2 linked regions of the Homo sapiens genome follow. The protein of the gene in region 2 purifies or fractionates together with the protein of the main gene of each other region. This does not show direct contact. Each region holds a gene or a part of one and is shown on either strand. Other genes may lie near its edges.

Region 1 (3,750 bases), about 22 Mb from region 2:
AGTGCCGTGTGCCTGCAGTCTCAGCTACTTGGGAGGCTGAAGCAGAGGATCGCTTGAGCCCAGGAGTTTAAGGCCAGCCTGTGCAACAAATCAACACCCCACCTCTAAAAATTAAATAAAATTTAAAATATTTTAAATTTAAATAATATTCTTGCATTAAAAAGAGCTGTAGTAAAACAAAAAAAAACATCCTAAAATAAATATTTTAAAAAAGTAAATGCTGAGTGTACTGTGAATGAGTGAAAAATATGTAAAAGATCTCAATACTATAGGAATTATTTACTTACGCTCCACAAAGGAAGTAAAGAGCATTCGAAACCTGCTAAGCCGACTACCTTCATCTGCCCACATTCGAATCACTCCAATTCCTGTTTTAAGCATTACATCATTGGCCACAGTGCTGCAAAACTTGGCCTTCAGGTTTTCAATAGAACTGCTTCCATCATAGACTGCAACGAAGTTTCTCTTGCATTCATTTGAGTGCTCCATTTGATAATCTAGGAACCTCAAATAAATCTGTAATATTAACACAAAAACACTGCTTTTAAAAAGATATATTAATTTGAATTTTTCTATTTCTATTTTCCACAGACAACATGGGACACCGAATGACAGCTGACAGAAAACCATAATCGATAAATGGCTGATGCCTAAATAGTGAGAGGAACTAAGATTAATGATCTGTTTCTTTGGTTGTCTTTATAATGGAACCAAGCATTAAGGAACTTACTTTGTGTTTTGTCTATAAAGAGTAGAAACTTTTTGCTCACAAGGCATAACTATCTCACATTTTTCTCATTATAAAAGCAATCTCATGGTACTGGACAGGGGAGAAAATAAAATAATCACTCATATTTCTATTATTCCAACAATGCATGTGATTAATTGGTGAGTTTCTTTTCACTCTTTCTGCACATTAAAAAAACCTGTGTTTAATTGTAAGATATACACATCCTACTTTAGCTGTAACATATAAAAATGTTTTTATCTATACTCTTAGCCATACCTATTCCCGGATGTCCTATTATTTATTTACACAATATCCTACTGTTCTACATGGTTGCTTTATTTCACCTCTTAACAATACCTGCATTTTCAGACAGGCAGACGTCAACTGTACTATCAAAGGAAGCTCTATTAGCATCCCCCATTCAAATTTTATAGCTAAATGGTTCTAAGTTATTTCCTAAACACTCTTGACCCATTCTTGTTTGGCGATTTCTCTTACATTGTGAATTTAGATTTTAAGCATTAATCTCCAGAAGAGCCTAATGAAGTAGGTATCATGTTTTTTTGTGGGCAGAGATGAATCTGTTATTCGGTGGCAAGGATTAAACCCAGGTTGGTCTGACTCTAAATGTGCGTCCTTCTCATTCCATGAAGCGCTTTACATACTCACACAGTGTTCCCTGTTTGGGCTCTAGTTTCTCATATGTGACTCTATCATTAAAATAAAATTTGAGTGAGTGAATAAAGATTACCTTTGAATTGCCATTCAAGACATCTAATGAGTATTCACTTCCTAGCTATTATTTCTGAGGGAGCAGTATGCCACATCTACCCTTTAATTCGAAGAGATTAATAAAACAAAAATGTCATGTCATATATTCCCCCCCCACCCCACCAAATACCTTGATGGCATAAAACTAAGAGAGAACAACTTACAAAATATAGCTTAAAGAATTACATTTTGACTAAATAATTTTGGTTTATTTGAAATGACTGGTTCACCACTTCCGTGAGAATGGTGGAAAATTGGTAATGAAATAGGATTTCCAGTTCAAAACTTTACAAAGTCTTCATGCGTGTATTTTAACAAAGAAGCAATATGTTTTCTTAAATATATCAACAGTTCTCATTAGTTTTCCATCACTTATATAACCCAAACCCTCCGCTCACACTCTGGTAGCGAGCTCTAATGCTGTAATGACTTCCCTCTTCCACTAGACTGTGATGTCTTCCAATGGAAGGTCACTGGCTCAGTTTCATCCAGTATAATTCTTGCTCATGGCAGACAATGAGAAAGTGACTAGGCTTGTAAAACTATGACTTGGTAGAAGTATCAGTAGAATAATCAAGCTGTCTGAAGTATTTATATTTACTCTCTGCTTTTCTTTTAATCCAAATAAATATGGTATTATATAAGGCTATAGTAAATGCTCTTCAAAGACATATTTTTAAAAAAACATCGAGTTAAAGATAAATAATAACAAGATCACAGCACTTTTCTACTGTAAATACAGCTAAATATTGAATTGTTTAGTTCAACAAATTTTTGGGAAATATTCATAACGTGAATCTGACAAATTGCAATGTTGGGAGAAGGGCATAAACTACTTTTCTTTTACTCCAGATTGCATGAGAAGGGATCTTTTACTTACAACTTTCATCAAGTAAGTGACCTCTTACCCTATCCCTATATCCTACCCAGGGAGGCAGGGCAAGTTACCTGGATGGTGGGAGTTTGGTTTCTTTTTCCCTCCCCTCATAGGAAGTGGGACTGGGTAGGCCGGTCTGCTCTGCAGATGCGAACTTTCCCTGGAGTGGAATGGGCTGTTCTAGACTTAGGTGAGACGTAGAACTGGTGGGCAAGGAGTTGCCAACACTAATTAGATCATCTCTCTGCGTTGCTCTCTCTATCCTAGCCTTCACTGTGGTAAAGAGGCTTTTCCAACTCCCTACACACTGACACTTTTATTTCTCAATTGGTTCAGCACTCCACCAGGGAAAAGGGATGCTATTTATTGGAGCCCCTGAAGACCCCAACAGAAATGAAATCCCCAGAAAGCTACTATCATGAAAAGGCCACTGATAAAAGTGGACTAAAACACTATTTGTATACTCTTAAACATCGATGCCTTCTTTTGTATATTTATTTTTAAAATATATTTTTAATTTTAAAAATAGAGACAGGGTCTTGCCATGTTGTCTAGGCTGGTCTTGAACTGCCAGGCTCAAGTGATCCTTCCGCCTCAGCCTCCCAAAGTGCTGGGACTGCAGGCATGGGCCACCGTGACTGGCTTCTTTTTATATTTATAAATGGATATTTTTCTTAAACATCACCCATGAACTAGTTTCTCACATTTAGTATTCAAGGGTAATGGTGACTTTTAACATTTAATTTAGATTTCTTAAATAAAACCATCTATTTACACTTTTTTGTTTGTTTGTTTTCTTTTTTTAGACAGAATCTCACTCTGTCTCCTAGGTTGGAGTTCAGTCGCGTGATCGCGGCTCTCACTGCAGCCTCCACCCCCAATTCAAGAGATTCTTGTGCCTCAGCCTCCTGAGTAGTTGGGACTACCGGTGTGCACCACCACACCTGGCTAATTTTTTGTATTTTTAGTAGAGATGGGGTTTCACTATGTTGCCCAGGCTGGTCTCGAACTCTTGACCTCAAGTGATCCGCCTGCCTCAGACTCCCAAAGTGCTGGGTTTACAAGCGTGAGCCACTGCGCCTGGCCTATTTACACATTTAAACATTCAAATTTTAAAATTTGATCCAATTCCCATGTCAACTGTAATAATTTTTTTAAGTTTAACTGATTTACTTTTATTAAAAGCAATACAACATTCTTCTATAGTCAATATTCCAGGTAACGCTCCTAAAAATTTGTGAATATGGAATTATCTTTTCAAGGAATATTTCAATGAAGAATGAGATCTAATAAATATTGTTTAATTTCACTTAAAGCACACTTAATATTTTCATACTTACATATCTATAAAAATATGTTGTATTGTTCCATA
Region 2 (3,750 bases):
TTAAGATTATGACTAAGGCTAGGCACGGTGGCTCACACCTGTAATCCTAGCACTTCAGGAGGCCAAAGCATGGGGATCACTTGAGCCCAGGAGTTTGAGACCAGCCTAGGCAACATGGCAAAACCTCATCTCTACAAACAATACAAAAATCAGCCAGGTGTGGTGGTGCACTCCTGTGGGTCCAGCTACTTGGGAGGCTGAGGTGGGAGGATCGTTTGAGCCCAAGGGGGTGAGGCTGCAGTGAGCTATGTTTGTGCCACTGCACTCCAGCCTGGAAGACAGAGTGATACCATCTCAAGGAAGCAAAAAAAAAAAAAAAAAAAAAAGATTAGGACTGAAAAATGGTTAGGCAGTGTCAGAACTCAGAGACTGACAGCTTGAGAATGAGAAACACTGTCCTGCCTGGTGGTTAAGAGCATGAGCCCCCACCGGGGACCCAGCTCTGCCAGGTGTGCTTGTGGGAGCGTGAGCCACCACTGGAATCTCTGAATGTCTGTGTCCTCATCTCTAATGCCAGAGCTCACAATACCTCCCTTGCAGGGCTATTGTGAGAATAAAATAAGATGCAGGTAAATCTTAGCTCAGTGCCTGCCATGAAGGAGGTGGGTGTTGAAATCATGAATAAAAGAATAAAGATTAAGGATGTGAATAATATAATTGTCTTTAAGTGGGTTCTGGATAGTTTTTTCCCCCATGGGTGCTGAAGAAGTCCTGAATAAAAGAAAGATCAAGGCTGGGCGTGGTGGCTCATGCCTGTAATCCCAGCATTCTGGGAGGCCGAGGCGGGTGGATTACTTGAGGTCAGGAGTTCGAGACCAGCCTGGCCAACATAGTAAAACCCTGTCTCTACTAAAAATTCAAAAATTAGCCGGGCATGGTGGCAGGCACCTGTAATTCCAGCTACTCAGGAGGCTGAGGCAGGAGAATCGCTTGAACCGGGGAGGTGGAGGTTGCAGCGAGCAGAGATCGTGCCACTGCACTCCAGCCTGGGTGACAAAGCTACGCTCCATCTCAGAAAAAAAAAAAAAAAAAAAAAAAAAGATTGAGGCTTTGGATAATATAATTGTCTTTCAGTGGGTTTGGATAGCTTTAGGTGACCGTTAGGTGAAAGGCATCAGGACGAGGACTGTCAGTGGAGGGGTCTAAGCACCATCCTCTGGCACTGTATTCATCCATTTACATCTTTGCACACACATGCTGTGATTTGCTCTGAGCTGCAGCATTGGGGAGAGAGAAGTGTTGCCCCATGTGTTTATAGGAGCAATTTGATGTAAGAGAACAATCCCCCCAGCCAACTTTTTGTCAGTGTATTCAGAAGTTGTAAACTTACCCACTATTATATCCCCAAGAAGCAGGAACTAAAAAATGACAGCCCTAATGAAGGGTGGAAAGACCTCTTCTGAGGTGGTAGATTCTATGTAGCACCCATGAAGTAGGTTTGGTAAGCCACTGAGTTTTTGAGGTGAAAGCAAAATTTCCTCCTGCGAGCCAAACATGGGAGTATCATGGCAGTTCTATGATGAATATCTATGTGTGGCCCTGAAATGGGCCGTAATGTGACTTGTGGAGTTAATCATTAGCCCAGCGGTTGTCTGAACGACTTGATTTCCCTGGGCTGCGAGCAGTTCACCTGCAGAGGAGGCTCCAGAAAGCGGCATGTCCCCTTTGCTCTTTGGGGCTGGGCTGGTCGTTCTGAATCTAGTGACGTCTGCCAGGAGCCAGAAGACAGAACCTCTAAGTGGCTCTGGGGACCAGCCACTCTTCCGTGGAGCTGATCGATATGACTTTGCCATCATGATACCTCCAGGAGGCACGGAATGCTTTTGGCAATTTGCCCACCAGACTGGATACTTCTATTTCAGTTACGAGGTATGTGGGTGACTGGCCATACTGGGGGGCTTTTTTTTTTCTCCTTTACTCATAAAGTGGGTCAGGTTTTAGGCCAAAACAAGGTCTGGTTGTCTTTATTATGCTGTGATTCCCCACCTGTTAATGAAATGGACCTGCAGTTAGAGGGAAACTCCAGCTGGGTGAATAATCACCAACAGGAGCTAAAACATATGGTTTGGCTTCTTACATCAGGGGCCATGCTCAAAGCCATGGGGCAGACGGGGTGCCTCTCCCTGAAGAGGTAATCATTACATGTACTCGGATTTGGGGATGAGAGGGGAGAGAATACATTTTTAATATATTAAAACAAAATTGGATAATGGTGCTTTGGAGACTGATCCAGAGATTTCAAAGAAGGCTGCTTCAGCTTATGGGGTGGGGGAGTAAAGGTTCTGCTGCCTTTAGGAGCAATTCTGGCAAGTCAGAGATTCACTAGGTCAAGTTTTTTGTATTCGGCCAGTTAATCCTATTTTTTTTTTTTAGGACGGTAAGTGTTTTCAAGTTACTTATTCAAAGGTCAAGTACTTTTACCCATACTATGGTCTTATATCATGCTGTCCAAGGATGGTGAACTCAGTATGAAAGTTAGAGGCTGTTCATTTCCTTTGTTCTTTATCTTAGAAATCGGTTAACTTTCTAATTTTTGTTTACATAGTAATAGACTTTGTTGATCTTACTCCACTGTAACAACATTTATTTTAAATAAACTTATCAGAGACTTTTCTTACCTCTGAATTTCTATTAGAACAGCAGCCACTACTAAGCTCACTGTGGCCTGGCCTAATCAAGATCTAGCTTGGGAGCAAGTGTCCATGGAGTGCTTGTTGTAGGTGTGCACTGCCAAGCAGCAAATGCCCAAATCTGGGACATCATTGGGGAGCTCAACCACCAAGCAAGTTCATTCAAGAACTCTACAGCCAGGCCGGGTGCGGTGGCTCACATCTGTCATCCCAGCACTTTGGGAGGCTGAGGCAGGCGGATCACCTGAGGTCAGGAGTTCGAGACCACCTTGGCCAATATGGTGAAAACGCATCTCTACTAAAAATACAAAAATTAGCCGGGCTTGGTGGCATGTGCCTGTAATCCCAGCTACTTGGGTGGCTGAGGCAGGAGAATCGCTTGAACCTGGGAGGTGGAGGTTGCAGTGAGCCAAGATCACTGCACTCCAGCCTGGGTGACAGAGCAAGACTCCGTCTCAAAAAAAATAAAAAATTCTACAGCCAGAATCGTACTTTTTTTTTTTTTTTTTTGACAGAGTGTTGCTCTGTCGCTCAGGCTGGAGTGCAGTGGCATGATCTCGAGTCACTGCAATCCCTGCCTCCCGGGTTCAAGCAATTCTCCTGCCTCAGCCTCCAAAGTAGCTGGGATTATAGGCGCACGCCACCATGCCAGGCTAATTTTTGTATTTTTTAAGTAGAGACAGGGTTTCACCATGTTAGCCAGGCTGGTCTCGAACTCCTGACCTTGTAATCTGCCCACCTCGGCCTCCCAAAGTGCTGGGATTACAGGCGTGAGCCACCGCGCCCGGCCCAGAATCATACATTTTAGTGGATCCACACTAGCTGTGTGTTCCGAGCAAGGCATGTCTTCTTCACACGGGTGCTGTTGGCATTCTGGGCAGTTCTTTGTCCTGCTGTACTGTTTCTTACATTGCAGACGTTCAGCAATGCTGTGCTGCCTCCCCTTAACACCATCACTGTGATACCTCAGAATCCTCCAATCAACTCCAAACCCCAGCAGGGGGTTGGGCAGTCCCACCCCAGACAGAGACCGCTGTGCTGATGACCGTGGGACGTCAATCTTACCACTCAGCTGGCTTCCTCGTGATGTAGCAGGGGTTCTGCTACCTATTTAATGTGT

What was found. The genes of interacting proteins can lie anywhere in the genome.
Region 1: the proteins of TMED6 (region 2) and NETO2 purify together in Homo sapiens (affinity purification with mass spectrometry; 2 studies listed by BioGRID and IntAct, with this or other methods). This does not show direct contact.

What each region holds. Positions count from the first base shown.
Region 1 is NC_000016.10:47,109,196-47,112,945, forward strand, and holds part of NETO2 (neuropilin and tolloid-like protein 2 isoform 1 precursor), read right to left. Parts: intron 517-3,750; coding exon 288-516; intron 1-287. UniProt on the Homo sapiens protein: Accessory subunit of neuronal kainate-sensitive glutamate receptors, GRIK2 and GRIK3.
Region 2 is NC_000016.10:69,349,660-69,353,409, reverse strand, and holds the start of TMED6 (transmembrane emp24 domain-containing protein 6 precursor), read left to right. Parts: upstream 1-1,623; 5' UTR 1,624-1,656; coding exon 1,657-1,869; intron 1,870-3,750.